Linked DNA regions of Homo sapiens. The protein of the gene in region 4 purifies or fractionates together with the protein of the main gene of each other region. This does not show direct contact. Each region holds a gene or a part of one and is shown on either strand. Other genes may lie near its edges. The genes, in order: CRIM1, RNASEH1, RCN3, RNASE3 and GTPBP2.

The links.
Region 1: the proteins of RNASE3 (region 4) and CRIM1 purify together in Homo sapiens (co-immunoprecipitation; one large-scale study listed by IntAct). This does not show direct contact.
Region 2: the proteins of RNASE3 (region 4) and RNASEH1 purify together in Homo sapiens (co-immunoprecipitation; one large-scale study listed by IntAct). This does not show direct contact.
Region 3: the proteins of RNASE3 (region 4) and RCN3 purify together in Homo sapiens (co-immunoprecipitation; one large-scale study listed by IntAct). This does not show direct contact.
Region 5: the proteins of RNASE3 (region 4) and GTPBP2 purify together in Homo sapiens (affinity purification with mass spectrometry; 2 studies listed by BioGRID and IntAct, with this or other methods). This does not show direct contact.

Annotation. Positions count from the first base shown.
Region 1 is NC_000002.12:36,360,849-36,366,905, reverse strand, and holds part of CRIM1 (cysteine-rich motor neuron 1 protein precursor), read right to left. Parts: intron 1-6,057. UniProt on the Homo sapiens protein: May play a role in CNS development by interacting with growth factors implicated in motor neuron differentiation and survival. May play a role in capillary formation and maintenance during angiogenesis.
Region 2 is NC_000002.12:3,554,031-3,560,768, forward strand, and holds the start of RNASEH1 (ribonuclease H1 isoform 1 precursor), read right to left. Parts: upstream 4,304-6,738; 5' UTR 4,231-4,303; coding exon 4,103-4,230; exon of another isoform or gene 3,865-4,102; intron 3,814-3,864; exon of another isoform or gene 3,645-3,813; intron 2,875-3,644; coding exon 2,759-2,874; intron 1-2,758. UniProt on the Homo sapiens protein: Endonuclease that specifically degrades the RNA of RNA-DNA hybrids.
Region 3 is NC_000019.10:49,525,215-49,531,915, reverse strand, and holds the start of RCN3 (reticulocalbin-3 precursor), read right to left. Parts: upstream 3,914-6,701; 5' UTR 3,858-3,913; exon of another isoform or gene 3,535-3,857; intron 3,450-3,534; 5' UTR 3,444-3,449; coding exon 3,202-3,443; intron 1-3,201. Other genes in the region: FCGRT (IgG receptor FcRn large subunit p51 isoform 1 precursor), read right to left, coding at 5,797-5,906, 6,343-6,459. UniProt on the Homo sapiens protein: Probable molecular chaperone assisting protein biosynthesis and transport in the endoplasmic reticulum.
Region 4 is NC_000014.9:20,888,638-20,893,808, reverse strand, and holds RNASE3 (eosinophil cationic protein precursor), read right to left. Parts: upstream 2,425-5,171; 5' UTR 2,358-2,424; intron 2,128-2,357; 5' UTR 2,123-2,127; coding exon 1,640-2,122; 3' UTR 1,461-1,639; downstream 1-1,460.
Region 5 is NC_000006.12:43,624,982-43,631,509, reverse strand, and holds the start of GTPBP2 (GTP-binding protein 2), read left to right. Parts: upstream 1-2,245; 5' UTR 2,246-2,347; coding exon 2,348-2,533; intron 2,534-2,593; exon of another isoform or gene 2,594-2,721; intron 2,722-2,920; exon of another isoform or gene 2,921-2,951; coding exon of another isoform or gene 2,952-2,993; intron 2,994-4,168; exon of another isoform or gene 4,169-4,231; intron 4,232-4,561; coding exon 4,562-4,588; intron 4,589-5,099; coding exon 5,100-5,284; intron 5,285-5,645; coding exon 5,646-5,754; intron 5,755-5,949; coding exon 5,950-6,147; intron 6,148-6,447; coding exon 6,448-6,528. Other genes in the region: MAD2L1BP (MAD2L1-binding protein), read right to left, coding at 1,741-1,760.

The DNA.
Region 1 (6,057 bases), on a different chromosome or scaffold from region 4:
TGAAGTGGTCCAACTACTTCATAAAGTCTAGTTCAGGTCAAACATCCTCAAGGTAGCTTTGCCTTATTTTGGCAGGTCTTTCGCAGTCTTAAAAAGAAGTATCACAATTCTCCAACAAAAGATGCCTTTTGTTTAATCACAGCTGTGAAACGTTTTGCTGTGGCCTTTGGATAAGAAGCTAAATAAGTTACCTCTTGTAGACTGGGACTCTGCAGTCTCAGGTTTCATTCTGCCCTGCCAGAAATTCCTTTCTGTTTTGAATCTGAGATGTTTGTTTATGGTTTTTGTTTTGAAATGCTAAATAAGACAGGCATAGTTTCCAGTTACAGCCTATGGACCACCATCTACTCCCTCTCCTTTTTTTTTTAATCTTTCCATAGGCAAGGTAGCTGGTTGCTAAAATTTCCAAATAGCAAACTGTTCAAATTCTCTTCTCAGGAACTTGAAATACAAAATGGTAACACCCTACAATATAATTAACACTTATTTTTTTTTCTTAAATATTCAGAAGACAAATGTTCTCAGGATAGTCTGAATTAGGGTGTTATTTTGACATCTTTCTGATTTTGTTTGTAGGTTACATGTCCGAATACCAGCACTCTTGATAGAAGTGCTACAAATGAGAGGTACTAAAGTAGTTTCTGGAAGAAAATCCAATTTCTACTATGCGATAATACGGTTTGATCATCAGGAAGGAAAAAAAAAGTTGTAAACCACTGATTCCAAGGATTTTTCTCTTCATCAAGTTCTTTCTCCTTGTTCTACAATAGCCAATTTAAAGCATCTGCCTTATGAATTATCAGCCAATATTTACTGGATAAAAATGATACTTATTTTCAGGTACAAAGGAAAGAGTCACAGTTAAGCAAATGTAGTTCTGGGCTGGGCGCGGTGGCTCACGCCTGTAATCCCAGCACTTTGGGAGGCCAAGGTGGGCAGATCACGAGGTCGAGAGACCATCCTGGCCAACATGGTGAAACGTGGTCTCCACTAAAAATACACAAAGTAGTTGGGCGTGGTGGCACATGCCTGTAATCCCAGCTACTCAGGAGGCTGAGGCAGGAGAATCGCTTGAACCAGGGAGTCAGAGGTTGCAGTGAGCTGAGATCATGCCACTGCACTTCAGCCTGGCAACAGAGTGAGACTCTGTCTCAAAAAAAAAAAAAAAACACAAACATAGTTCATAGTTCTGTTCTCCTAAAATGGGACCATACCCACACTAAGAACTAAACAGCTAGTAACATTAGATATTTTGATTCTAGGTGTTCTTCCTACCCCGCACTATATCACAAAGACTCCCTAGAGACAGTGCAAACCCATGGCCAACCTCGACTATTAGTCCACATCAAAGATGGCTAGAATGACTGGGAGAGAGAAAAGCAACACAGATGGCCTCTGGCCCTCACACCCTCTCCTGCTCATTCCCAAGCCCGCAGTGGTCTCTGAATCGGCTAGGCTTGCCGCTGCTTCCTTCTGTAACCTCAGTGAGATATATCAACCTGGCCTGGCTATATCCTTGGGGTCTCCAACGTCTCCAGTGATGTCCAGAAATCCTCAAAAAGTTCTAACAATAAAAGGAAATTTAATTCACTGTCATAAAACCATATGCCATTAATATTAAAAGGCCATTTTTAAATAAATATTAATTTGAAATAGCTCTTTGGATGTAGGGGCTCAAACCACAAAATCAAGCAAGTGTTCACATTCTGCTGAAATGCCAAAGGCGCTGGGAACTGTAGTTGCACTGGATCAAACCAACGCATGTTTCCTTGGTGCATAGACCCTGTATTCCCAGCCCCCTGTTCTCGGTACTTCACGGTTCTTTTCTCTTTGACAAACATCTGACATTTGAATTCCCCCTCGAAACTCCCACCCCTTTGAAGAGATTTAGTTAAGTTTGGAGGAAATGTGTGCCCACAAGGTAAATTTTTAAACTTACAGAGAAAGCTAACAAAGAGGAAAATGGGAAAGGATAGAAAATAGAATGGAAATTAAAATTAATATTATTTTAAAAAATCTATTTGGTACCAGAAACTAGCATATACACATACATACTATACACACACACACACAATCTTATATATACATCTATGTAATCATATATATAAATCTCTAATCCTCACTACAATATTTACTTAATAGAAAGCTATTAATATTCCAGTTTCACAGATGAGGGAACTGAAGCTCAGAGAAACTAAACAAGCTGATCTCACGATTAAAAAAATAACAGATTTAAGATTTCAATGCAGGTTTGTCTAGCCCCAAGCCCTATTTTCTTTTTCCTAAAACATCCTGCACAAGAAGTGCAGGAAAAAAGGAGGGAGGAGAGGAGACCCTCAGGTCTTTCTTGTTGCTGCATCCTCCACTAAACTTTTCCTGGTGGTCAGATTTGGGTTAGACTCCCTCTTACTTGCTCCTGACATGCTTGGCATTTCCGTTATCTCATGGCTTACTGAACTGATTGTAATGAATTGTCTGCTTTTCCAGTTTACCATCAGATCATGGCCTGTGTGAAAACAAGGACCATATCTTATTTATTTTGGCTGAAAAATAATGACTATAATAGCAGGTAACATTTATCAGGTCTTTTAATATGCATACTCTGTGATACATGCTGTATACATAGGTACTAGCTTTGTGCTACTTAAAAGTGTGGTCCTGGCACCTGTGACACTGGCATCAGCCAGAAATTTGTTAGAAATGTAGAATCACAGGCATCACCCCAGACTAACTTAATCAGACTTGCAATTTTAAATACCTAGGTGATTTGTGTGCACACTAAAATTTCAGAAGCACAGTTTTATCTCACTTAACCCCCACAGCGAACCTAGGAGGTACCGACGACTAACAGAAAAACTGGCTTACACAAGTGATGTCACTACTGTAAAGCACAGAGACAAGACCCATAGGCGATGCTCATGAATATTTTCAGGCAGAAGAATGGCAGAAGAACAGGTAGAGCTAGAAAAAGAACAAGAGGAATGGATAATCCTCTGACTTCTGGTTTTGCCTAGTTTATACCAACTGCAGCAGCAGGTTGGAACCATAGCCCCCATGGCGTCGAGCTGTTTCTTTGCTCAAGCCAGGCCAAATCCTGCAGTGGTCATCAGTGTGCACACTCAGGAGCTAGGAGCAAAATTTCCTCCCAGAAGATAATGTGAAGCAAAGTGCACACTGCTGATTATAGCACATCTAGGTTCCCGCCTCCTCCCCAAATTAAGTATTTTTAATTATTTGTTCACAGATAAATGGTTACATTTATAATTCCTACAAATCAATGCAAAATAATATCAGACCTAAAACATTACTCAAAATATACAAACTTTGTAGAAATCATTTAGACAAGGTATAAAAAGATAGTCATGGGGGGGGGGGGCGGCGACGACTGCTGAATTCAGTAACAATTTGCTCCCTTTCTAAGAGCCCAACCTCCTTAACTGCTTACCATCAATGACTGAGGTAGATGGGGATTAAGAGAACAAGAGACTGAGCCCAAGTAAAATTGTTTCACTTATACTGGTTAGTAGCCTTGTTAGTAAGCATGTTCCATGTGCCAGTCATTCTTTTAACTGCTCATTAGGGATGCACTGAGTCCTTATAGCAACCCTATCATTAACCTGACTACACAGATGAGAAAACTGAGACACACAGAAGCAGAGTGCAGATTTGACCCCAGAAACCAAGTTCTTTTTTTTTTTTTTTTTTTGAGACAGGGTCTTGCTTTGTCGCCCAGGCTGGAGTGCAGTGGTGCGATTTCAGCTCACTGCAGCCTCTGCTTCCTGGGTTCAAGCAATTCTCCCACCTCAGCCTCCCTAGTAGCTGGGATTACAGGGGCCTGCCACCAAGCCTGGCTAATTTTTTTGTATTCTTAGTAGAGACAAGGTTTCACCATGTTGGCCAGACTAGTCTTGAACTCCTGACCTCAGGCGATCCATCTGCCTCAGCCCCACAAAGTGCTGGGATTACAGGCATGAGACACCACGGCCGGCCCCAAGTTCTTGAACATTACACTTTTCCACCAACATGTAGGTATTTTCATGTGGGGAATTAACTGGGACTGGAGGAGGGAGGTAAGGAATTGATACCTGTTCACTTTGCAACTAACAAAGGAAAATAGGTTCTTTAAAAACATTTACTTTTTTCATGTGGGCCCAAGATAAAACACGTAAGAGTTTAGTGTTTACCTTGAGGGTATTCTTACATAGAGGTATATTCAACCATTCCTCTGTCTTGACTTAGGAAGTCTTGACTAAACAGAGGTTTTCAAAGATGTGACCAGGCTACTGCCCAGGGCAAGCAGCAGGGTGGGTGAAGCTGAGAGGTGCTGATAAAGGGACACCTCCCAGTTTACTGCCCACGCTTATCCGCCTAGTGAAACAAGCTAGAACAAAGAGAAAATCACTCTCAAAAGGAAACTTGCCGTTTTGAAGCACAGCTACTAAAGCATTAAGAATGCAGCTTCATTCTTAGATGTTGAGAAACACTGAGACCAATTGCACAGGCTCTAAGGAGAATGGGTAGGATCACCTCCCCTGCCAAAAGAAAGGGCTACTACTCACACTTTTAAACCTAGTTCAAATTCAAATTCCCCTTTCTGCTTTGCCACCAGAGCCTCAAGAGATCACTTCAGATGCTTTAATTCCTACAACTAATTTTATCCATATATTTCACTAGCCAATTAATCATACACAGACTTGCAAAATCACTTCTACTTGGCTTGAATTTATATTATTATGTAGACTTTTTGCAAGTCTACATAATAGACTTTTTGCAGTCTTGCTGTCTTTATTTCTTATCTTGATTAAGTGTACAGAGCAAAGAATATGTTGGAGAGGTCCCCGGGCTCCCTAGTTTCCCCCTCACCCCAGCAGAAGGCCTTGTACAGCATAGAAGACCAATGAATGAATGACTGATTTCCATGCAAAGGCAAGTCAGATCTTTGAAAATGCAGCTTTGCAGAATTAGACCTCTGAGAAGGAAAGCTTTCAATGTGTTATTCATGCATGCTTGGCTAGTCTACTGTTTCTCCCTCAAATAATTAAATGAGCTTTACTGGGGTGTCTCCAAAATCCTGATACCAAACGTGCCATACGGAACACAGTGTTACAGGAACCCGCTTCACTAAATGTATTTCCCTTCCACTCATTTTACCACCTCCTACCCTCTTGTATTTACAGGCTAAAGCAACACTATCATCTCTGCTTGCACCATAGCCTGGGAGATGTTAAGCACACCCACATTTTTCAGGAATTTCACAATTAATGTCTGGAATGTGTTTTGGATTATTCTTCAAAGGATGATATACTTGTGCTAAGATGAATTCAATATTTTCCCTTCTCCCATTCGTCATTCTTTAGTCCACCCCCTCATTACCTCCTTAGGGTCATCTGTTTCATCTACAATATATCCCCCAACTTCATAATGCCCATCCCCTGCCTCACCCAGCTGTTCACTCATTCATCCCGGTCATTGCATCTTCAACAAACCACACAAAACAAAGAAACCTGTACCAAGTCACCAAATACCTCCTACAAATGGATGTAATGCCTACACAGATTAAGGACTGTTCAGTTTTCTTCATATATTAATCTGACTGCTTACAACCCTACTGCCAACCTCTTGCTTGGAGATTTTCCTGGTCAGTGTACAATATGTGTGAATGGCAACAAATATCTCCAGACTTGCTATTTTTGCCATTCTGATAATACACAATCCATCTGCCCTTTGCCAAGTGTTTTATGTGACAGGACTCCTCAATAACAGGGAAGATTCTATAAGCCTGGCAATCAAAGTGAAGGTCACTGAGTCCTGTCATTTATTTAAGTGCAGTGAATAGTTGGTCTCTCCATGTTTTGCCAATATTTACTTTTGGGAGGAACTAATTATTTCCTTGTTTACTTCGTTGGTTTCTCTTCCCATTCCCTGTTAACATAATGTTATAGGCCCTCTGCTTGTTCCTCTCTGGGATCTAAGGGCTCCCTGTCTACCTAAGGACTTCTGAGAGGAAAAATGAAACCCATTATTCCAAAACAAAGCCAAGAGCTTAATTTTTCTAAC
Region 2 (6,738 bases), on a different chromosome or scaffold from region 4:
GGAGAAATGGGGCACGAACATCACAGAACGCCTACTAGAAAGGAACAAGAAAATGTCCAGCCTAGTGGAGCTTCTCAACCCACACCTCTCGGAACCCTAAGGGCGCCGGGCAACACTTGACTGTGATCAGCACGACGTCAGCAACAGCTGGCGTTTCCACTGCCACATTTTGTTTTCACACACTCATCTCCAAAACGTTCCTCTAGGTACTCTACTGAAGTAAATGCAGATACTGTGGTCCAGGTTAAAGTGTCATTTTGTAGAACCTTAACACGGATATAAACACTGGTTTTACTTACTATAACAGAGATGGACACTTTACAGAACAGATAAGACTTGGAGGAAAAAAACACACTTGTCAGTTAAGTTTTACTTCACAAAATTGTGGTTTTTAAGTAAATTAACCTTAAATCAGCTTATATAAACCATAAGAACCAGTAAATAGCTCAATAATTCTAAAATAAGGATAAATGTAATGTTAAAAAACAAAAAACTGTAAAAGGGGCTAAGACTTTTTGATACAGATCTGAATCATTAAAGGCACTAAATCTCAATTTATAGACGTAAGTCACTGACTAGGAGGTCTCTAAAGTTTAAAGAAGTAGATTCAAAAGAACTAGCTTGCTTTAAGAGTCAGAGTACTTAATAAAAACAGAAACATACTTATATTGGAAGACTTGAGATACAAATAAATTACTGATTGGTTAAAAACAAAAAATTTGTGAAAAGGAAAACTGAAAAGGAAAATTAAGAAAAGGAAGTATCAGGAACCCAGCAAAGAAGGAAAAAGCCATATTTTCAAACCTGCTTTCTGTCTCAAACTGATTTTTCCATCTGGGTAGAAAAATGAACAGCTGTAACAGCGAGGAGGCGGCTCAGCATTACTGCCTCCATTCTCCCTTAACATCCCCATAGTGGTATCGTATAGGCCGAGTGAACTATGGGAAGAATTTATAGTTTAAAGCAAGGATGACAGTGGTCCGTTCCCAAAACTAACCCCCAAGGAGATAAAGAGGGAGTACACACAAATAACAATGTTATGTTGAAGACTTATAGGAGGAGCATCATGGCCTGACCAAGGACAGAGAAGTTTCACAATCCCCTTGGACCCTCGCTGCCATCCAGATGTCTGTGCTCATCGGTCTCCTCCTGATCTCACCTCCGCCTTTCTTTCCCCTTCCCTTAACATAAAAGAAGTCTCAAGTTCTATTAACTTAAGATGGTTCTTCAGGACACTAGTCCACCATCTTCTTGACTTGCTGGCTCTCGGAAAAAAGTCGCCTTCCTTGCCCCAACACCTTGTCTCTCAGCTTATTGGCTGTCATGCAGTAAGCAGTAAGAACTGTCACATCGATGAGCCTTTTTCACGTGTCCTCATTCTCAAACAGAATCTCCTTTAAAAGCTATTGAAGAGAGAGAGGGTGAAGCAGATGCACTGAGTGAGGGTCGACCCTGCTTTGCAAACTAACTCTTCAGGGATCCATTCTGGACACAACCTGCCTCGCTCTGAATTGTGCTTTGTCCAGGATTGTTACGATGATTCGAAGGAGCAGTTGTTCAGGTTCAAGCATCTCAGTGGCCTCTAGAGAGGCTGTTCAAGATAAGGTAATTAAAACTATGCTCTGCTCAGTCTTAATTTGCTATAGTAAAAAGTTTGTAAGTAACATTCACGTAAGATCACCTCCTCAGTGTAGATCCAGAAATATTTTTAAAATCTTGCGCTCTAAAGTCGTCACCCTGCTCATCTGAGTCTGCATAATGGGCTTTAAACTTCCAATTATATTGGGAATTAATCTTATATTGGGCTTTAAACTTTGAATAACCGTACTTTCTATAACACATAAAATTGGAAGAAATTGGACAGGCGTGGTGGCTCATGCCTGGAATCCTAACACTTTGGGAGGCCAAAGCAGGTGAATCATTTGAGGTCAGGTGTTTAAGACCAGCCTGGCCAATATGGTGAAATCCCATCTCTACTAAAAAAAATACAAAAATTAGCCGGGCGTGGTGGCACGCACCTGTAATCCCAGCTACTCCGGAAGCTGAAGCAGGAGAATCGCTTGAACGCAGGAGGCAGAGACTGCAGTGAGCCAAGATTGTGCCACTGCACTCCAGCCTGCGCAACAGAGACTCTGTCTCAAGGAAAAAAAAAAAGAAGAAATTCAGATTGTGTGACTCTGTTCTCAATAAAAAGGCAACACCACAAAGGGGCATGCCATGGAAAGAACCACACTCATTCCTGTAAACTGTAGCCCATCCAGTCCAATAACTATGTAAGTTTTTTTTTTTTTTTTTTGACGAGTCTTGCCCTGTCACCCAGGCTGGAGTGCAGTGGTGCAATCTCGGCTCACTGTAGCCTCCACTTCTCGGGCTCAAGCAATTCTCCCACCTCAGCCTCCCGAGTAGCTGGGATTACAGGTGTGCGCCACCATGCCCAGCTAATTTTTGTATTTTAGTAGAGATGGAGTTTCATCATGTTGGCCAGGCTGGACAAGTATTTTTTTAAAAAAAGACAAGGAATTATGGCATAAAAGGCTGAATGGAACAGGAGAGCTGAGTCCTGGCTTATCCCTAATACTGTAAGTAATATGAACCACTATTTGTAACTGCTTTCAGTCTGTTCCCTAATTTGTAAAATGAAAACAATCACACGAGGTTCCCTACATGCCTAGAGGGTAGCTATATAGATCAAATGCCATCTGGCATATGAAAGCCTTTGAATAGGTTAAAATGTCACACTGATATGAGAGGTGACTACCTTCTGAAACTTCCGGGCTTGCAGATTTCCTGACAAAGGCCCAGGCCTCATCCTCTGTGGCAAACTTCTTAAATCTGGCAGCAGGAAACCGGTCCACCTGTGCTCTGCACTCATTCCTGGAAAAGATGTGCAATGTTATTTCCTTCTTCCTTCTCTAACTTATCCCCTTTTTTATTGAGATTCTTAAGGTTGGAAATACAGTTGTCCCTTGGTATCTGAGGGAGACTGATTCCAGGAAGTCCTCCACCCCATCACAGATACCAACATCAGAGGATGCTTAAGTCCTTTGCATAAAATGGTGTATTTGCAAATAACCCACACACATCTTCTTGCATGCTTTAAATCATCTCTAGTTTATAATACCTAATACAATCTATATAGTTGTATTGTCTTTTTATGCGTATTTTAAAACTGTATTCTATTTTAATTTTTTCCAAATATTTTTGATCTATGGTTAGCTGAAACTGAGGATGCAAACTGGATATAGAGGACCAATTTTTGCGTGAAAAGGGCAGAGTCGCACCTTATAGTTTTATCCTGCACGTCAGACTCTACACCTGTGTTCTACTGTATGCCAGCCAGCCAGCACACCAGCACCATAAGGCTTTCGTCAAACTCAAAGCATAACAAAATACTGCGGTCTTTGAAAAAAATATTAACCATTTCTTTACAACAAAAAGGTCAACTTCTGAGATGCTTCTTCCTCAATACTGTAGCTGCCGTGCATGGGGAAACACAGGTAACGAACTTTGGTATCTTGTAGTGGGAAGAGTTCTGGTGGTACAGTCAGAACAGCTGGGCTCAAGTCCTTTCTCTGTCAGTTACATGCCCTGGGAACTTCCTGACCCCAAGAACTATACCTGAAAGTGAGAATAATCCCTCTCACCTCCAAGGGTTGTTACAAGGATCCAACTGCAAATACTGGCTTATTAGAATTTGCCTTTTTTAAAAGGGAAGATTAGGTACTGAGTTCCAATCCCAATTTAGCTGGTACGGAAAGTCTTCTGGTAACGGGGGTTCGTTCTGATTACGTGTCACTTTTTGTTGCACTTTAACTGCAACAAAGATGGAGGATTAAACACAGGGTTTATTAGGCCACCCCTAACCTTTACGCGACGTTTCTGATATTTCAAACAAGTCTTCGGTGCGTTCCAGTCCCAGGCCATGAGCCTCCTGGAACCCCGCCGGCCGAGCAGGAAAACGAGGCGGTCCCCCGACCACCCACAGCCACAGCGCGCGGCACAGACTCGGACCGCCAGGCTCCCGCCGCCGGGGTTAGCCGGGCTCCGGCCTCCCTCGACCCCGATGCCGGCAGGGAGGCGCCTCGGCGGGCGGGCCACTCACCAGGTCAGAAAGACCCCGGTCTTGCGGCCCCTCCTCACGGCATAGAACATCCCGAACCCGCGAGAGCCGCGGCGGCAGGGCAAGGCGGCCAAGGCGACTCTGTGGGCCAGGAACAGAAGCCAGCTCATCGCTCACTCCCGGCACCGGGAAGCATTTCGACTCCCGGCCCAGCGTGGGCGCGAGCCGCCGGCGCTCAACACCGCACTTCCGTCACCGGCGCGGGAAGATGACGCACGTCTGGGCGGAGTCCTGATGAGGGCCGGGGCCTAGGGAGGGGCGGTGTCGTAGGGCGGAGCCCGGAGCTCGGCCCCTGACGAGCCCGAACTCGTCAACTTCCTGTCGGTACTTGAAGAAGCGGAGCCAGGGCTGAGATCCCGAAGGCGGGCGAGGTCTGGGATGGGGCGGGGCCTATGGGAGCGGGGCTGAAGCCCTGGGCCCGGCAGAGGAAGGTCGAGATGGACCATGTTGGGCCCCTTCTCTCCCCGCCCCCAGGCCGCAGTTCGGGGGCCACGCCCCGGCGTGCTCGGGTCACCGCGGGAAGCCCTTGAACCCCCTGGCGCCCGGCACCCACGTGCGGTAACCGCGGCTCCTCGAGAGCTCCAGGGATGCGGATCTACAGTAAGGGCTGTGGCCAGATGAATGAATGCACATTTTTTAGTGGGCAGAAAGATGTTAGAATTCATGAATTAGAATAAGCACAAAGGAGGGCGAGAGGGGAGGCCGTGGAAGCCGCATTCCTCCCCTTGCCTTGGGCGCCCACCCCCGAAGGGGCGCGTCCCCTCCCTGCTCCACTGCACGTGGGTGTTTAACCAGGGGATATCCAGTGCCTCAAGCACCACGACCCGGGAGAAAACTGAGTTGAGAAGGTAACTTTTAGAATTCTCCCCATTTGACCTTTTGCTCTGTAAGCAAATCAAGTAATTTTAAAAGTGTTCATGGGTTGGAGGGGCGTGGTGGCTTACGCCTGTAATCTCAGCACTTTGGGAGGCCAAGGCGGGTGGATCACCAGGTCAGGAGATCGAGACCATCCTGGCCAATATGATGAAACCCTGTCTCTACTAAAAATACAAAAATTAGCCGGGCGTGGTCGCCTGCGCCTGTAATCCCAGCTACTCAGGAGGCTGAAGCAGGAGAGGCGCTCGAACTCGAGAGGTGGAGGTTGCATCTGGGCGACAGAGCGTGATTCCGTCTCAAAAAAAAAAAAAAAGTCTCCATTGGCAAACATTGTTATTCGAATTATTTTTAAACCACTTTTCTTTAATTTTCTTAAGGTCTTCTAACAAGCCTTTTGCACACCTGCCATGTATTTTGTCAGGCCTTGGGGATGAAGGTGAGAAATTCGAGAATCCCCGGAGATAACACATCAGCAAATAGTGCGCAGGCAGAACAAGCTGTTGGAGGTGAGAGACACAGAGCAGAGAAGCACCCGCACCTGGAGAGTCAGGAGGGCCTCACATCAGAACGCCTGAGCAAATACAGTTTTGAAGGATACTAATTTTTTAAAAAGTTCATTCACATGAGTTAGACAAAGAGAAAGAAGCAGGACATTCTAGGAAGAAGGAACGGCCCAGGCAAAAGCGACGCGTACATTGGCGTGGTAAGTTGTGTTCCTCTGTGAAATCGAAGAACATCTTTTTTTTTTTTTTTTTTTTTTTTTAAACAGAGTCTTGCTGTGTCGCCCAGGCTGGAGTGCAGTGGCACGATGCACGATTGGGGCTCACTGCAACCTCCACCTCCCGGGTTCAAGCATTTCTCCTGCCTCAGCCTCCCAAGTAGCTGGGATTACAGGCGCCCGCCATCACGCCTGGCTAATTTTTATGTATTTTTAGTAGAAACAGAGTTTCACCATGTTGGCCCGGCTGGTTGCGAACTCCTGACCTCAAGTGATCCGCCTGCCTCAGCCTCCCAAAGTGCTAGGATTACAGGCATTAGCCACTGTGCCTGGCCAAAGAACATCAATTTTAAACATTTCAGCTTTCCTAATTTTAATTTAAATTGGCCATAGCTTTCATTCCTCATTCCTACCTATTGCACTTCAAGACGGATTCTTATTTTAAAATAAAAAGACACACACAGCTGTCCCTAAAGTCCATTTATGACTGATCATCCTACCCTTGTGTAGATATCTGAGGAAGCCCAGAGATGCCCGGGAAGGCTCTCAGGATGACCTGACAGCTGCCCCCACCTCGTCAGCATATCTGAGGGTTGACCTACCAAGGGCTTGCTTTTCTGTGCCCACTGGCTGGTCCTGTATCACAAGGACTCATCTTCCCTGAGAAGTCCTAGGTTGGAATTACCTGAGGACGCTTGCAGGATCATCCACATGACTTTCCACAGTGCCAAAACCCTCTCTCTTCCTTCTTCCTTCCTTCCTTCCTTCCTTCCTTCCTTCCTTCCTTCCTTCCTTCTTCTTTCCTTCTTTCGTCTTTTCTTCCTTTGTTCTCTTTTCTTTCTCCTTTCTTTCTTTCTTTTCTTGTTTCTTTCTTTTCTTTCCTTTTCTTCTTTCTTTATTTTCTTTTCTTTTTTTTCCGGGTCCTACTCCAACGCCCAGGCTAGAGTGCAGTGGCATGATCTTGGCTCACTGCAACCTCTGCCTCCTGGGTTCAAGCGATTCTCCTGCCTCAGCCTCCCGAGTA
Region 3 (6,701 bases), on a different chromosome or scaffold from region 4:
GGCAGGAGAATGGCATGAACCCGGGAGGTGGAGCTTGCAGTGAGCCGAGATCACGCCACTGCACTCCAGACTGGGAGACAGAGCGAGACTGCGTCTCAAAATAATAATAATAATAACAATAATAAAGCACTTAGGACAATGCCTGGCATTGCCATTAGTGCTAAGCTAAATGTGCTAACCTGTCACTGCCCTTCTTCCTCCATTTCTCCTTCATGCATGCCCATCCAAGCACAATCTCCCAGCCAGCAGTCCTGGGGACCACTGCCACTGTCTCCACCCTGATCTGACCACCATCTTGTCTTGTCTTCCACCTGGACTATCGCAGTCGCTTCCTCACTGGGCTCCCTGCTTCTTGCTCCCTACAGTCTGTTCCCCACCTCGCAGCCAGCAGGATTCTCTCAAAACCTAAGTCAGCTCATGCCCTCCCTCAGTTCTACTCTCAATTGGAGAAAAGCCTAAATCTTCATCGTGGCCTAAAAGGCTTTGCATTGCATGATCTGACCCCCTTTGCATGGTCTCAGGCAATCCGCCCGCTTTGGACTCCCAAAGTGCTGGGATTGCAGGCGTGAGCCACTGCACCTGGCCCTCTCTCTTTTTGAGACAAAGTCTTGCTCTGTTGCTTAGGCTGGAGTGCAGCGGCATGATTTTGGCTCACTGCAGCCTTGACCTCCCAGGCCCAAGTGATCCTCCCTCCTCAGCCTCCCTAGTATCTGGGACTACAGGAGCACGCCACCATGCTGGGCTAATTTTTGTATTTGTTTTGTAGAGGCGGGGTATCACTATGTTGCCCAGGCTGGTCTTGAACTCCTGGGCTCAAGTGATCCCCCAGCCTTGGCCTCCCAAAGTGCTGGGATCACACACATGAACCACCATGCTGAACCCCTTTGCTCCTTCTCTGCCCTCACCTCCCACTCTCTCCCCTTTCTCACTGAGTTCCAGCCACACGGGCCTCAGAACTGTTGCTCTGACACTCCAAGCCCACTCCTGCCTCAGGGCCTTTGCACTTAACTGTTCTGTCTGCCTGGAATGCTATTCACTCCGATACCCACATGGCTCAAATACCACATACCACCTTCTCATGGAGGCCTTGTCCAAGTTCCCTGTTTAAAATTGCAGCTCCAGCCGGGTGCGGTGGCTCATGCCTATAATCCCAGCACTTCGGGAGGCCGAGGTGGGCAGATCACCTGAGGTCAGGAGGTCGATACCAGCCTGACCAACATGGAGAAACCCCATCTCTACTAAAAATACAAAATTAGCCGGGCATGGTGGTGCATGCCTGTAATCCCAGCTACTCGGAAGGCTGAGGCAGGAGAATCACTTGAACCCAGGAGGCGGAGGTTGTGGTGAGCCGAGATTGCGCCACTGCACTCCAGCCTGGGCAACAAGAGCAAAACTCCGTCTCAAAAAAAAAAAAAAAAGAAAAAAAAGAAAAATTACCTGGGCCTGGGCTGGGTGCTGTGGCTCACGCATTAATTCCAGCACTTTGGGAGGCCAAGGCGGGCGGATTGCCTGAGCTCAGGAGCTCGAGACCAGCCTGGGCAACACAGTGAAACCCCATCTCTACTAAAATACAAAAAAAAAAAAAAAAATTAGCTGGGCGTGTGGGCGTGCACCCATAGTCCCAGCTACTCGGAAGGCTGAGGCAGGAGAATTGCTTGAACCTGGGAGGCAGAGGTTGCATGAGCTGAGATCACGCCACTGCACTCTAGCCCGGGAGACAGAGTCTCACTCTGTCTCCAAAAAAAAAAAAGGAAAGAAAAAAAACTTTGCTGGATGTGGAGGCGTTCACTTGTAGCTAGGACTTGTAGCGTTCACTTGTAGCTAGGACTCTAGCTACTAGGGAGTACGAGGCAGAACAACTGGTTGAACCCGGGAGGCGGAGGTTCCACTGAGCCGAGATCACGTCACTGCACTCCAGCCTGGGTGACAGAGCGAGACTCCATCTCAAAAACAACAACAACAAAAATAAAAATAAAAAATAAAAATACAAAATTAGCTGGGCGTGGTGGCTAGCGCCTGTAATCCCAGCTACTTGGGAGGCTGAGACAGGACAATTGCTTGAGCCCAGGAGGTGGAGGTTGCAGTGAGCCGAGATCGCACCACTGCACTCCAGCCTGGGTGACAGAGCGAGACTCCATCTCAATAAGTAAATAAATAAATAAATAAATAAATAAAAATTGCAACTCCCCCCCACCAACAACCTCTCCCCTCCACACTTTCTGACTCTCTTGCTTTATCTTTCTTGGATGCATTTATCTCTATTTGATCCACTTTCTACTTATTGACTTCTTGCTGTTTCCCTCACCACAGTGTAAACTTCAGGAGGACAGATGTGTTAGCTGTTGTGACTTCAGCACCTAGAGCAGTGCCTGGCACATAGCAGGTGCTCGATAAACCTTTGCAGGCTCAATCAGTGTCAGGAGGATGCACAGAAGAAGGCGGCTGCTCCCATCGCGCCCCCCTGCGCTCAGGCCTGGACGGAGAGGGTGGACAGGGCTCCATTCCACCCAGCTCACCCTGAAACTCAGGGCTCTGCCACTCTCCTGCACTGGCCGGGCTCCTTAAAGGCCAAACCTCATTTTCCACACCAGTCCCTGCCATTTACAGAGCAGGAAACTGAGGCTTGGGGAGGGGAGATGTCTGGGACAAAAGAATAAGGAGCGCTTAGGGGGCAGAATCTAACCCAGATTTTGCTGCCCTCAAAGGTCCTCTTTTTTATTGTTGTTGTTGTTTTTTAGACGGAGTCTCACTTTGTCGCCCTGACTGGAGGGCAGTGGTGCAATTTTGGCTCACTGCAACCTCCACCTCCCAGGTTCAAGCGATTCTCCTGCCTCAGCCTCCCGAGTAGCTGGGATTACAGGTGCCCACCACCACGCCTGCCTAATTTTGTATTTTTAGTAGAGACGGGATTTCACCATGTTGGCCAGGCTGTTCTCGAACTCCTGACCTCAAGTGATCGGCCTGCCTTGGCCTCCCAAAGTGCTGGGATTACAGGCATGAGCCACCACGCCCGGTCTCAAAGGTCCTCTTTAGGCCTCAATTTTAACTTAATTTCTTTTTCCCAAGGATAGAAGGTAGAATTTCATTTCTCACAAAGAAATGAAGTTCAGTCCACGCCATTTCTCTGACCCCTGTCGATACCCCCGCGTCTCTCTCCTAAGCCCCACCTCTGGACACGCCCCAACCGAATGTCTCTCTTACCCCAGACGGGCCTGGCTTTCCTCTGGGGTGAGTTGGTCGAATTCCTTGGCCACTTCCCGTCCCAGGAAAGCCTCATGGTCGTACTGGAAGTTCCCGTGGGCGTCATCATGGGGAGCGTCGCTCAGGGGGGCCGCCTGGTGCACCCTCCCCTGGCCATGAGGGCCTGCGTCTGGGGATGGCTTCCCCTGGGCCCCGTGCCTCAGTAGCAACAGAAGCAGCAGAACTGATGGTCGCCACATCATCGGTCCCTGGGGAGTGGCAAAGGCCAGGGGTCAGGGGTCACAGGGATGGGGACAGACACGGGATAGGAGAATGGCGGGGTGGAGGGGTTACCTAGGACAGGACAGGGAGTTGGAAGTTGGCTGCAAGCTTTCGGGCTCAAAAAGGGCGGGCGATGGGGGAAAAGAGGGCGGGATGCTTAGAGGTAAAGCCACCTATGGGGAGGACCGAATCTTCTGACGGAGTCTCAGGGGGGTCCCAGACCTGCCAGGGGGAATTACAGAGACAGACGTGGCGCACATCCCACGCAAGGTGCAGGGCATAGTTGTGGCCAGCGAGAGGTCAGGCAGGCTCCCCGTCATTGCTCCCAGTCCGGACCCTGGTCCTCGACCCGAGCCGCCCTCCCTGGACAGAGGCCCCCCACCCACTCCCTTTACCCTGTTATCCAGCTTCGCTCCGCTCTCCACGCTCCGCTCTGCGTTCCCGCAAATGTGCCCAATTCGGCCGCTCTCCAGTCAGGCCCCGCCTCTGGCAGCGCAGAGCCCCGCCCCCCGCCCAATGAGCTCGCACGAGCGTCTCACGGGGCGGGGCCAATGAGTGCACGGGGTGCCGCGGGCACTCCTCGCCACGTCCACAAAGGAAACCGCGGCCTGCCCGGGGAAGAAGGGTGGGCGACACCGCAGTGACGCGGCCGGGGAGAACTACAACTCCTGGCAGTCGTCGCGGCACTCTGCCGTCCACCTCCAGCTGTTCTAGTCACAACGCCTCACGGGAAATGTATTTTTCCCTTTCCCTTTGTCAGGATGGTTTAAGAAAGAGGTGTACGTTCCAACACTTCTATACCAAACAAAACAAAACAAAACAAAAATAAACAAAAAGAACGAAAGAAAAGAAAAAAGGCCGGGCGCGGTGGCTCACGCCTGTAATCCCAGAACTTTGGGAGGCCGAGGCGGGCGGATCGCCTGAGGTCGGGAGTTCGAGACCAGCCTGATCAACACGGAGAAACCCCATCTCTACTAAACATACAAAATTAGCCGGGTGTGGTGGCGCATGTCTTTAATCCCAGCTACTTTGGGAGGCTGAGGCAGGAGAATTGCTTGAACCTGGGAGGCGGAGGTTGTGGTGAGCCGAGATCGCACCATTGCATTCCAGCCTGGGCAACAAGAGCGAAACTCCGTCTCAAAAAAAAAAAGAAAGAAAAGAAAAGAAAAGAAAAGGGAGAGCAGAATCAAGGGGCCGGAGGAAATATCCCATTTCCTCCAAGAGTGAACACTGCTCCTCGCTCCTCTTCGGCTCCAAGGATTCAGGTGGTCAGACAGTAGCCAAGAATTCCTCAAAATGCCTGGCATGGCAGTCATCCAGTAAATATTTGTAAAAGTTATGAATTAAAAATACATGACCTCAGGTTGAGCACAGTAGCTCAATGCCTGTAATCCCAGAACTTTGGGAAGCTGAGGCAGGTGGATCACCTGAGGTCAGGAGTTCCAGACCAGCCTGACCAACATGGTGAAACCCCGTCTCTACTAAATACAAAAAATTAGCCGGGTGTGGTGGTGCATGCCTGTAATCCCAGCTACTTGGGAGGCAGGAGAATTGCTTGAACCTGGGAGGCGGAGGTTGCAGTGAGCTGAGATCACGCAATTGTACTCCAGTCTGAGCAACAAGAGCAAAACTCTGTCTTAAAAAAAAAAAAAAAAAGTGACCTTAGGCCGGGCGCGGTGGCTCACACTTGTAATCCCACCCCTTTGGGAGGCAGAGGCGGGTGGATCATGAGGTCAGGAGATCGAGACCATCCTGGCTAACATGGTGAAACCCCGTCTGTACTAAAAATACAAAAAATTAGCCAGGCATGGTGGCAGGCGCCTGTAGTCCCAGCTACTCGGGAGCCTGAGGCAGGAGAATGGCGTGAACCCAGGGAGGCGGAGCTTACAGTGAGCCGAGATCGCGCCACAGGACTCCGGACTGAGCAACAGAGCAAGACTCCGTCTAAAAAAAAAGAAAAAAGAAAAAGAAAAAGAAAATACATGACCTGATGTATAAAACTGGCAGGTTCCCCTGTGGCAGCATGTTACCTGTAGGAGAGATCCGAGGCCCAGCCGCCATTCAGTCCCCCGACTTATTCCCTTACCTCCCCTGCCTGAAAAATGATGAGAACACACTGATTCGGGCCCAAACTCGTGTTATATTATCGAGGTGGAAAACAGCCATATGTATTAGGAGGGGAAACTGAGGCAGACCACAGGACGGGGCTCCAGAGGGAGGACAACTAGGCCCAGAACCCCTTCTGGAGGCTCAGAGATGCCAGTGTTCCAGGAGGTCTCACAGCATGAAAGGGGCCTGACTACATTCGCTTTTAGCAGTCGGAATGGCGGATGGTCAGGCGGTGGCTGGAATCACATTTACATCCTTCAAATCAGCATCCTGGGCCTCCCCTGGGGTGGGCAGGAGGACCCCGGTGTCGTCTCCACGAAGGGAGATCCAAGGGGCTGAGGAGAGAGAGAGAGGGAGAGGTCATCAGAATCTCTGAGGCGCTCTGGGTCTGACTGGCGTCCCCCATTTGTGTGTGTGTCTCACACACTCTTCCTCAGTCTCTATCCCCTTCCTTCTGGGCCTTTGTCTCCCCTTCTCCCAATTTTCCGTCCCCCCTCTTTCTACATCTTTGCCTCCCTCCTCTGGGTCTGTCTCCCCCTCCCTCTGTCCGCACCTCTCTCTGTCCCCTCTGGGTCTCTGTTCCCCCGTCTCTGGGTCTCTGTCTCCGTCCCCCTCTCTCTGCACCTCTGTTCTCCCATCTCTGGGTTTCTGTCTCCACCTCTCTCTGATCTCTGTCCCCCCTCTCTGGGTCTCTGTCCTCCCAGGTCTGTGTGCCCCTCTCTTGGGGTCTCTGTCCCTCTCTCAGAGGCTCTTCCTCCCGCTGCCCCCCACCTGGCAGCCCACTCCTCATCCTTCTCCACAACAGAGCTCCTCCTACAGCCGCTGCCGTGAGTAGCAAGACACCGATGACGATTCCCACCACGAGCACGGAGGACTTGGCTGGAGATTCTGCAGCCAGAGAACGCTGTGAGATGTGGAGCAGCCCCTCCACCCCACCCAGTCAGGACACAGAACTGGGGCGCTCCCAGTCCCTCCCAGCCTCGGAGATTCCAGCACCAAGTGTCTGATGGGCAGAGGCGAGGCCAGGCAGGCGATCTGGGCAGACTGCCCCCAGGTTGGACGTAAGAACCAGCTACAGCACGAGCGGCCGCGGTCACACCGGCAATGGATCAGCAGCGGCAAGGCGGGGC
Region 4 (5,171 bases):
CTCTGAGGTTATGGGAAGACTGCACTCACTTCCTGACATGCCCTGTTTTACCTAGAGTCAGTGGATTCTGTTGAGCACTGAGATTTCCCAAACTCAGTGTCTCTGTGCAAACTTTTAAGTTCACAGCCCGACCTTGGAGAAGCAAGATCTCAATAGCTTCTCCAGAGGAGAGACTTCAATACAGCTGCTGTCTGATGCCAATTAAAGCACCATTACTGACATGGAGTCATCTGAGGAATGGAAATTGCTGTTTCTCAGGGTCTGGAAGAGGAGGAGAAATATAGAAGTCAGAAATCTCAGACTGAAGGACCAAGGTGCAGATCTGATGGCATCGTACCTCTCTTGCATTCTGAGTCGGGCCATTCAAAAAGACCCACTCTGTTCCTGGAACAATCACTTGAATGCTGCACCTGTCCACAACTTGCAGGAAGGGGCTTCCCCTTTTTCTCCCCTGTTTCTCATGGATTCCTGAGTGAAGCCCTGTGTTGGAGTCCAGGGCAGCGGCTCTCATCATCCATTTCTTCTCTCTCTGGGTCTACAAATCCTGAATTCTCGAGGCTGTGCCCTTCCTGACAGGTGTTGAATGAACCTTTGACTCGCCATTGGGAACATCTATGGAGGGCAGAATGGGCAGGAGCCAACTCACCTTCATGAGTGCTCCCACTTCCTCCTCCTCCTCCTCCCCCTTCTCCTTCCCACGTGACCAGCGGCTCCCCATCTCCAGGACATGGAACTTTTGGGAAAGATGTCCACCTCTCCTCCAGTCAGCATTACAATCTGTCCTTACTGCTGTCGGAACAATTTATCTTATTGCACATTTGACTCAAACCCTGGTTCCACCTCTATTACGATTGCTAATAGCTGGAGACTTGATGTGCCCATTTAAAAGAAATATCCCTGAGGCTAAACTTTTCTTTATCTTGGTTTCACCTTATTTATAGCATTCTTGACTTTTTCTACTTTCTTCTTTTCTATTTTCTATCATAACGTTCAATTCTATCAAAATTTATCATTCATAAATCATAATGAAGCACGTGCATTTTCAGCTGATTCACTGCAGCTCTTTTTTTCTTGGGATAGAAATCATGTCAATAAAAACCATAGTCGGACCATAAAGCATCAAATGGGACCTCAATATCAAATTGGGCTCAATTCTGGAATACAACTAAAACAAGTGGAGATCTATACACAAGTTATAGGTTGGTGTTGGGGGAGGAGTCAGTGGATGGAAAATTGCTTAGAGGAGATATTAAGGCTAGGGAGACCAATGCTAAGTTGACTCAATTGGATTTTTTTTTAAGGCAGGCCTGGAATCAGGTATCACATGAAGGATGATGGGGGAATTAAGGAATTTGGTCAGATATTGAGGGGGAGAGATTCATGATAAACCCAAATCTCTAGAGCAGATTGTCACTAAATGACAGCAGAGCGGCCGAGGAAGACACACAGACACTTCCAGATGAATTTGCAAAGCAGTTTATTGCAGGGTTCACAAGGGACTTCAGCTCAGGAAAGCTGAAGGGGTATGGAGACTGATGAGGACAGTTGCTGATACCCAGAGTACATGGAGGGATGGGATCTTGGCTATGATTGAGGAGCTTGGCAGATGAGTGATGATGAGGACTGCTGATACAGGAGCTTAGATGGTGGTATCCAGGTGAACTGGAACCACAGGATACCGTGGAGAATCCCGTGGATCTCTGTTGTCACATGCAACTACATAGAACCTCCTTCCTGGTCTGTCTGCATACGTGCAGTTTGAAATATTCTGTGCACCTGGATTTATGAGGTCACAGTGGAGTAAAGGCACCCGGAATCTACTCCGATGACAATTGTTGAGAGTTCTGTTATGAGGGCAGCGTATACTTTGGTTACCACAAACATTAACTACATTAGCAAAAGTTGTACGAAGAAAAGTATTTTGGTTTTTGCAACGCCATCGATAATTGTTAATTGCCCGCATTGCAATGGTGCATCGAGGGGGGTTCAGACTGATGTGCTGGATGGCAAACCACTGAGCCCTCGTAAACTGTGGGGGTCTGGCATGGAGTGAGCCCTCCACACCCATAAGCCCCAACAGAAGAAGCAGACAAATTTGGGAAGTGAACAGTTTTGGAACCATGTTTCCTGTAAGAAAAGAAGAGAAGTAACTACTCCCCGATCCGGTCTCGGTTATGACACACTCTATAGTGTCTCAACCCACAGGCCCCTCTGCTGCCACTCTGGGGTCGCATTTCCTTTTCTTCCTGTCCCCAAAGTGTGCCACATCTCCTAAGCACTAACTTCAGCTCACCTCTCCCTCAGGTGCTGCCCTGTCGCTGCCCCTCCTGTCCCAGCTCTGGGGATTGTTGACTTACCCAGTCTCTGAGCTGTGGCTCCTGTGAGAACTGATCCAGCTGGTTGTTCTGGGGTTCAGGGGCAGCTGGTCTCCCCTACTTGGAACTGTTTAAATAAAGCTTCCCTTGGTGGGTCTGGCCATGCAGAAACCCACAGATTGACACATGGTCCACTTGTGCAATCATCCTTTTTATTTGATGACTTGGCTGAGCAACGGATACCCAAGGACAGCCCTGCTGCTCTTTCTGCTATACGGACTCTAATTCCAAGTCATCCTGTGTTAGACAGAGTTTTGCCGGTGGGATCTGGACTCTGGGTGAAAACTATACGCTGCCGGCAGAATGACCACAGATTTTATAACTGTCCTCTGGCAGGCCCCTAAATGACTAAATGACACGAAGGCAGGCATAGTAGTTAGGAGAAATAGAGCCACAGAGGGCTGTTTGCCCAGGAGAAACCCAGCTTCCCTTCCATTTTTAGTAATATCCTTGGTTCTCTCTCACATAAATGCTCTCCATCTCATCCACCACTCTTGCTGGAAACTTGAGCTATTAATTTCTTGGGGCACAAGATTCTGTAGATAATTAAAACAATCTGCTCCATACAATTGAGGAATTTTTTTCTTTACTCCTCTTGCATTGGATCCACTTTCTCTTAAGTCTTGCCCTGATTATTGATTCCACTTTGTGTAAAGTTACATAACCTAAAAACACACCGAGGACAGTTGTAAAATCTGGCAGAGGATGAATGAACATTTGGTGTCATGAAAGATTCCAACCTAGCACTCGGTATTCCTGTGATCTTTTCAGCCTATGGTATTTTCTACAAAACAGTGTGTTCTGGGGTTGTCATTCATCTTCCTGGTAAGTTTCATTTTGTGATATTAACAAGAATATGGTTCTGTATTTACAAATGAACATTTAAGGACAGAGCACTGTATTCCTGAAAGTATAGAGGTCAAGTGTACAGTTTGATACACAAAGCATACATTTATTCTTGGCCCTCAGAGAAACACAGGAAAGTACTTGTAGACATATAATTGTATTACAGTGTGATAGAGGTAATAGCATTTGTGTGAACATGGTGTCATAGGGACACTGCTGGTGAAGGAAATCACTTGGCTTGAGAAATAAGGAAAACTTCAAAAAAAAGTTTATTTCAGCAGGTCCTAAAGGATAAGCAGGGGATTTTCAGGGGATTTAGAGAAGAGATGAGCATTCTGGGCACAGGGGATGATGTGGGGAAATTGTACAGAGGTGAGAAGTGAATTGCAAAGGTAAGGCCTGGGTACTAACAGATGTTAAATCTGGTCTAGCTTTGAGATTAGAAAATGGAAAGTAGACCCTTAAATGATATAATATACCTTCCAACAGTTAATCTGCCTAATTTTTACTACCGTCCAATTTTCCTGTCATTTAGAAATGCAATAATTTTATCACTGGGGTCCTTAGGTAAATGTGGACACAATGGTGACCTGGTGAGGACTCAATGCGCAGCTAATATTGCTCTGCCTTGAAGTCCTGTTCTGGCCGACATTCATTAGCAGCTTTATCATGAGGCAAGTTTATTTTTTCATGTATATTGTGTGGAGATCATTTTTGTAGGTGATGAGAATGTAAAGGTGAATGATACGTAGAGTATCCCCTCTGTGATGCTGACAGCCACACTGGCTAGAAACATTTGCACTTAAGTGTCTATAGTATGAGGCAAAAGACATAGACTGCAGCCCCAGGGCAGGTACTTGGCTAAACAGTGCTTCTTTTCAGCATACACAGTGCTATTTATGATGTTTGGTTTGGAAGATAAAGTTTGACATTGGAATAGTTCACTAAAAGTTTTCATTACTGTCTTATCTTTAAAAATCACATGATGGTGGTTGGTGCACCATTGGTGTTGTATCAATTAGAGCTGAGTAACAGCTGCGTCTGTGGAAGGGGCTCTAGCTCAGGGCTGTTCTCTGACTCCACTCTCCCTCCTGACTTTTATCCTATCTGTTCAGTGATGACACCTGCCTGGCTCCTGAAGACATCTGTGCTTATGACATATCAGACTTATTGAAGTGTCTTAAGCAGACCATAACCTGCCCAATTTGCAACCATATTCATCCTTTAAAATTGTGGAGTTTTTTGTTTTTTGTTTTTTTTTGAGACGGAGTCTTGCTCTTGTCACCCAGGCTGGACTGCAGTGGCGTGATCTCACTGCAACCTCCACCTCCGCCTCCCAAGTTCAAGTGATTCTCCTGCCTCAGCCTCCTGAGTAGCTGGGATTACAGGCGCTCGACACAATGCCCGCCTAATTTTTGTATTTTTAGTAGAGACGGGGTTTCACCATGTTGGCCAGGCTGGTCTCAAACTCCTGACCTCAGGTAATGCGCCCACCTCGGCCTTCCAAAGTGATGGGATTACAAGTATGAGCCACTGCTCCCAGCCATAAAAATTGCATTCAGAACATGCTCATAAGGTTTTTCTGATTGTCCCTTGTGTAGATTTCCTGCGTACATTTCCAACTACCTTCATTTGCCAGCAGAAGTAGTACAAATGATCTACTTTGATATTTATGACCTTTGAGAGAAGATGTTTTATATGAAGCAGGAATAAAGTATAAGTCAACATTAAAGAAAATTATCTGTTATGATCTCTGTAATCGAAACAAAATTCTCTGTAACTTCAGCATGATTTTGTCTTGAACAGACACAAGGCACTTCACCCGGGCTCTTTATTTTATTAGCATAACTTGTCTTGCAGCCTAATTTAACGACACATTTTCAGACCTGATCCACACTTCCAATGAGAGGAATAGTCAGAATTACGCCCTAGTGTTAAGTCATTTTTTGG
Region 5 (6,528 bases), on a different chromosome or scaffold from region 4:
CTTGTCTCAAAAAATAAATAAAAATAAAAATAATCCATGTATATGAAGGGACACATGTTATCAGACAAGTGCAGCAGGCTCTGGTTATCAAGAGGGCCCAGGGCTGGTCATGGTGAGAATGTTGGGAGAATGGTCTTATCTCTTCCTTCCAATTCTCATCCTTCTTGAGATCTCTCACTGAGTTCCCTAGTCTCTGTCTCTAAGCAGCAGTTTCCCTAGTAGGCCTGTGCCCCTGGCTAGCATTGACCTCTACGGCATAACCTTTCCTTCAGTGGCACAGGACTAAGAAAAGTCACATGTGCTTTCAACCACTGAAGACCCACATAATTGGCCTATGGTCAGCTAGGCCCTTTTGCAGATTTTGGTCTCTCTGCTCTCACTGCTTTGGGAAATTATGCTATGTGGACAGCATGATCAGTAAACCTGCCTCCCTCCTTGTGGCCCTGGGAGGAAGCCATGGACTCTACCAAGTCTGAACCCCTGAAGGGATCACCAGAGGTAAGTCATTATTGCTGCTTCTAGTTTTCCAAGGACAACTGAGGTCTGGAGAGAAGAGTTGCTTAATTTCTTTTTCTTTCTTTTTTTTTTTTTTTTTTTTTTTGAGACGAAGTCTCGTTCTGTCACCCAGGCTGGAGTGCAGTGGCATGATCTCAGTTCACTATAACCTCTACCTCCCGAGTTCAAGCGATTCTCCTGCCTCAGTCTCCCGAGCAGCTGGGACCACAGATGTGCACCATCATGCTGGGCTAATTTTTTTTTTTTTTTTTTAGTTGGAGTCTCGCTCTGTTGCCCAGGCTGGAGTGCAATGGCGTGATCTCGGGTCACTGCAACCTCCGCCTCCCGGGTTCAAGCGATTCTCCTGCCTCAGCCTCGCGAGCAGCCGGGATTACAGGCATGCGCCACCACGCCCAGCTAATTTTTGTATTTTTAGTAGAGACGGGGTTTCGCTGTGTTGGCCAGGCTGGTCTCGAACACCTGACTTCAGGTGATCCGCACACTCCTTGGCCTCCCAAAGTGCTGTGATTTACAGGCGTGAGGCACCGCACCCGGCTGAGTTGTTTAATTTCTTGACCGTGTATGAGCACCTCGCAGTTCGAGAAGAGGGGAGAAGTGGACACACTGTGAGTGGTCTGAGTCATGAGACAGCCATGCGGCTGTGAATTGAGCCCTAGCGTCCTGACTCGCAGCTCAGCAACATAACTGCTTTTCCACCCTGCCTTTCTGTGTTCTGTGCACTGGCTTATGTCGCTGAATGTATGTACTCTGTAGAGTGCAACAGCACTAAAGAGCTGGAGATTGCTTCACAAGAGAGTCAAAAGCCAAAAATCCCCTGTGGCCCTAGGCCAAGTTTCTATTCCCGGCCACTGCCCCGCCCTCGTGGTGGTTGGTGTAACCCGAGCCCTAGCCCCGCCCGAAGTAGGGGCCAGGCCCCTCCTACAGTCTTGGCCGTTTAAAACCAAACTCAGTTCTTCCCGATTGGTTCTGCTTCAAAACAAAGGGGAGGAGGAATACTCGCTTTGGGTATGCTTGCAGCCTTCGGGGAGGAAGCTGGTTTACGGGTTCGGGTCTCGTGTCGGGGCCACCGCGGTGCCTCCGGTTATTAAAACCAGCCCCTGGACGGTGCCAGCCTGGTAATAAAGCAGTGACTACTATGTAAAGGTAGCATAATCATCCCAACAATAACAGCCGTAATTTGGCTAATCACCATCCGCCTCCGCCCTGGCGTTCGCCCTGACTCACCCCAGCGGCACGCGGGCCATAGGGGAAGAAACTGAGGCAGAGGCGGAGCCAGCAGGCTGGCGGCACCAGTAGCCTCAGTTCTGCAGCTCTCGAGGTCCAAAACCTGTTGTCTAGGATCCGCGCTAAAGGGCCAAATCCCGGAGCGCCCACAAAGCTCGATTCTGATGTAAGCTCTTCTACGCTGGTGTCCTCGCGTCCCCACCCCAGGCCTCGAGGCTCTAAATTCCCCCCAAGTCCTAGAAAAAGAACATAGCGCGAGGACTGGAAGTCAGACTACAGCTCCCTTAAGCCTTTGCGCGCCAAGGCGCGCTCCTTCCCCACGCCTCCGACGACTCCCGCGGCCACTTGCGCCGCGATGCCTCCTGGGAGTTGTAGGGCGGCGACGTGTCATTTAAGTGAATTCCCAGGCCTGGGGACTCTATATCCCGTGGTGCCCCGCGGCTGTTTCTGACGCGACCCGGAGGCCAGGGAGGTGGGGGGCGTAGCTTGTGCAGAGCCCCACCCCACTCTGCTCAGGCCGGCCGGACACGGCAGTGGCAGTAAGGGCGGCGGCGACGGCGGCGGCGGTCGGGGGAGGGGCCGGGCGGGGGGCTGGCGGCAGCGGCGGATGGACTCGCGGGTATCGGAGCTGTTCGGCGGCTGCTGCCGGCCCGGAGGGGGCCCGGCCGTGGGCGGAACCCTCAAGGCTAGGGGGGCCGGCAGCAGCAGCGGCTGCGGGGGGCCAAAGGGAAAGAAGAAGAACGGAAGGAACAGAGGGGGCAAAGCCAACAACCCCCCGTATTTGCCCCCCGAGGTGAGCACCTGAGAAGTGGTAGGGCGGGAAGAAGCCACTCTTTCCGGCCCAGGACTCTAGGGAGGCGGGACCCAGATAATTAATCTCCCCTTCCGGTGTCGAGACCCCAGGGAGGAGGGGCACGGGAGGAGAACACCTCTTTCAGGTCCCGGGACCCCAGGGAGGAAGGGCAGAGACTGGACTCTCAGGTGACAGGACCTCAGGGAGGAAGAGTGGAGAGGGAGGACTCCCCCTTCTGATCTAGATTACCCCAGGAGAGAAGTAGAGAAAGGGGATCCCAGGAAGAGCACCCCGACCAACTGCGTGTGCCGCCATAGGGCAAGAGAGACTGCATCCTGGGACGAGAGGCAGACAGTAACCACCACTTCTTCTAAACTTGTTCCACAGGGAGAAGGGGAGTACCCGGGAAAAGAGCAATATGTTCCACACGGACACACACACAGTACTCGGGAAAAGAGCAGTATGTTCACTACACACACACACACACACACACACACACACACACAGCCTAAGCCAGTGGTTATCAAACTTTGGCATGTATCGAATCACCCGGATTGCTGGCCCCCAACGCCTGGCCAATTTTATTTTTTTATTATTTATTTATTTATTTTTTTTGAGACGGAGTCTCTGTTACCCAGGCTGGAGTGCTGTAGGGCTATCTCAGCTCACTGCAACCTCGGCCTCCCGGGTTCTCAAGCGATTCTTCTGCTGCAGCCTCCCGAGTAGCTGGCATTACAGGTGCCCGCCACCACGCCCAGATAATTTTTGTATTTTTAGTAGAGATGGGGTTTCACCATGTTGGCCAGGCTGGTCTCAAACTCCTGACCTCAGGTGATCCACCCGCCTCGGCCTCCCAAAGTGCTGGGATTGCAGGCGTGAGCCTCCGTGCCCAGCCTAGAATTTCTGATTCTTTCTTACTAGTGAGGATGGGCCTGAGAATTTGCATTTCTTATAAGTTCCCGTGTGATACTAATGCTGCTGGTCCCAGGACCTCACTTTGGGAACCATTGGTCTGGGCCCTAGACTGTCATTCTTGTACCACATTTTTTGAAGCCACCCATCCCCAGAAAAATGATTAAAAGGTTTTTATTGATGGGGAAAAAAAATAATCTCCTTAACACACCATGAAGTGGAGATTATGAGTGAAGACCTGTTAGGGCCTGGGAGCCAGACAGCCTTGAAGGGATGGAATGATAGGAAGGGAAGAGGAAAACTAAAATATCCAGAGAGGCGGGTAGAAAAATGCAGACTGGCCAAACAGGCAAATCCCATATCCCTTTGTACCTGGGAGGGGAAGCCTCAGGTAACAGGGTGCTTCTGTGCTGTGCTACCCACTGGAGCTAGAAGAGACTGTGGGGTGGATTCAGGATTTCACCTCCACTGAGGTTAGGGGGCAAGAGGTAAAGGCCATAGCGAGTCTGTCCGCTTCATTACATTTTCTGAGTTTTTCTGTTCCTCTCAGCCCCAGCTTTGGAGCTCTTCTCCTCTCTCACCTAGATCTTCTCGGTCATCAGGCTTGTAGTGACCATTGCTGAGCTCACCCTTTGGCTCTGATCCAGAACCTCTTGCAGCCTCTTACTCTAGATGACATCAGCTGAAAGGGGCAGGCAGGGAGGAAATGGTGTTTCCTAGACCAGTGACAAAGAAAGGTTTTAACAGCCTGGGCACAGAGGAGACATAGACTTCTGGGAAAAGCAGGTTTGAGGCCCTGGAGGTGGGGAGGAAGGGATGATCTTGCATCTAGGAAGAACGTGCTGCCAGTGATCAAAGAATGGATTGATTCAGTGTTCTGTTCCTGGCTTAAATGGGTGACTCCTTGTGTCCTTATAGGCCTTCCCTTCATAGAGGCTATGCTGGGGGTGAATAGAGGATCTTGTCTGCCACTGACCTTTGACAGGCACTTGCCTAACCAAGTGCCAGTGGGGCTTCCTGCTTTCTCAAGTTAGCTACCTGGACCCAGTGGGAATTGAGGGGAAGTAGGGATTGGGTCTGTACAGTGTATGGTAACTGCTCACTGTTTCTTTTCAGGCTGAAGATGGAAACATTGAATATAAAGTGAGTCCTAGGCTGGGGAAAAGCAGGGGCTGGGGTAGGTTGTCCTTGCCAGTGTGGGATAATTTCTTTTTTCTTTCTTTCTTTTTTTTTTTTGAGATGAAGTTTTGCTCTTGTTGCCTAGGCTGGAGTGCAGTGGCGCAATCTCAGATTCTCCTGCCTCAGCCTCCCAAGTAGCTGGGATTACAGGCATGCGCCACCATGCCTGGCTAATTTTGTATTTTTAGTAGAGATGAGGTTTCTCCATGTTGGTCAGGCTGGTCTCGAACTGCTGACCTCTGGTGATCCACCAGCATGGGATAAGTTCTCTGAGAGCCTTCCAACTTCATAATTATAGCAGTTTAAGGATATGGTTCAGGTTAAGGGCTCTGTACCTCGTTCTGTTGGAGGGGGATCAGGTATGAGTTTAAGTGGAAAGAGAAAGTCCTGGTCCTTGCAGCAGAACAGGTGGGGACCATGTAGGTTTGGGAGGAACACCTCTGATTTCACCTTATGATACCCCACTTGCCCTAAGTTGAAGCTGGTGAATCCATCCCAGTACCGCTTTGAGCACCTGGTGACACAAATGAAGTGGCGGCTCCAGGAGGGACGTGGTGAGGCCGTCTACCAGATTGGGGTAGAGGACAATGGGCTGCTGGTGGGGCTGGCTGAGGAGGAAATGCGAGCTTCGCTCAAGACCCTGCACCGGATGGCAGAGAAGTATGCTTCCCCTTCCCCACCAGTTCTCCTTTACCTGACTTGGGGGGACCCATGCATACCCAGTTACCTAGGGCCTGAGGGGCCAAGGTGGGACTTTCCTTCTCTTGACAAAGGGCTGAAGTGGGGAGGGTTAGTGTTTTGGTCCCCTCCTCACTGGACCTAGGCTGTTTTGCTCCTTGAATTAAGATATGTATATTTGTTTTAAAGGGAACTGTGAATGAGGAATAGATTGGAGGGTGGTAGGAAGTGCACTAAGGTATTGGGAGCTCTGTGGGAGGTGCAGGAAGTCTGTAGGTCCAGAGCGAGCCTGGAATAGGAGAAGGACAGGTGAGATATGGCAGCTGTGGCCTTGCTGTGACAGGGTTGGGGCAGACATAACCGTTCTTCGAGAGCGAGAAGTGGATTATGATAGCGACATGCCCCGGAAGATCACCGAGGTGCTAGTACGAAAGGTCCCTGACAACCAACAGGTGAGCACACACCCATCCCTGTCTCTCATGTCCACACTGTGGAAGGGCCCTGTGGTGGCAGGCTGTCTCCTGGCCTGGGATCCTGGGGGCTTCCAGTTCATCACTTGCTCCCTAGGGAGCGTCACTGCCCTTGACCCAGTCTTCAGTTAGAGGGGTGAGAGATTGGAGTTCTTATCTCTGGCAATTCATCCACAGTTCCTAGACCTCCGTGTGGCCGTCCTGGGGAATGTGGACTCTGGGAAGTCAACTCTGCTTGGAGTCCTGACCCAGGGAGAGCTGGACAATGGGCGGGGCCGGGCTCGGCTCAACCTTTTCCGCCACCTGCATGAGATTCAGTCTGGCCGAACCTCCAGCATCAGCTTCGAGATCCTGGGCTTTAACAGCAAGGGAGAGGTGCATGGGATCAATGGGACCCAATGGGGCCAGACTCTGAGGATGGGATGGTAGTAGTGAAGGACATAGGATGGGGGTAGAGTGTGGAGACTTTTTGAAATAGTATAGATGAATGCCCTGAGGGGACTGTGAACAAGCTCTGCCCCTCTTAGGAAATCAATGGGGAATCAACTAAATTAAATAAAAAATGGGGTCAAGATTAAGAGGCAGGGTCACCCAGGGAATGGTTTAGGTCCTGGCAACTCTGAAGGGGTTGGAAGGGCTGGCAGGAGGCACTGAGGGCCCTGGGCCCTGGGCCAGGTGGTGAATTACAGCGACTCACGGACAGCAGAAGAGATCTGTGAGAGCAGCTCCAAGATGATCACCTTCATCGACCTGGCA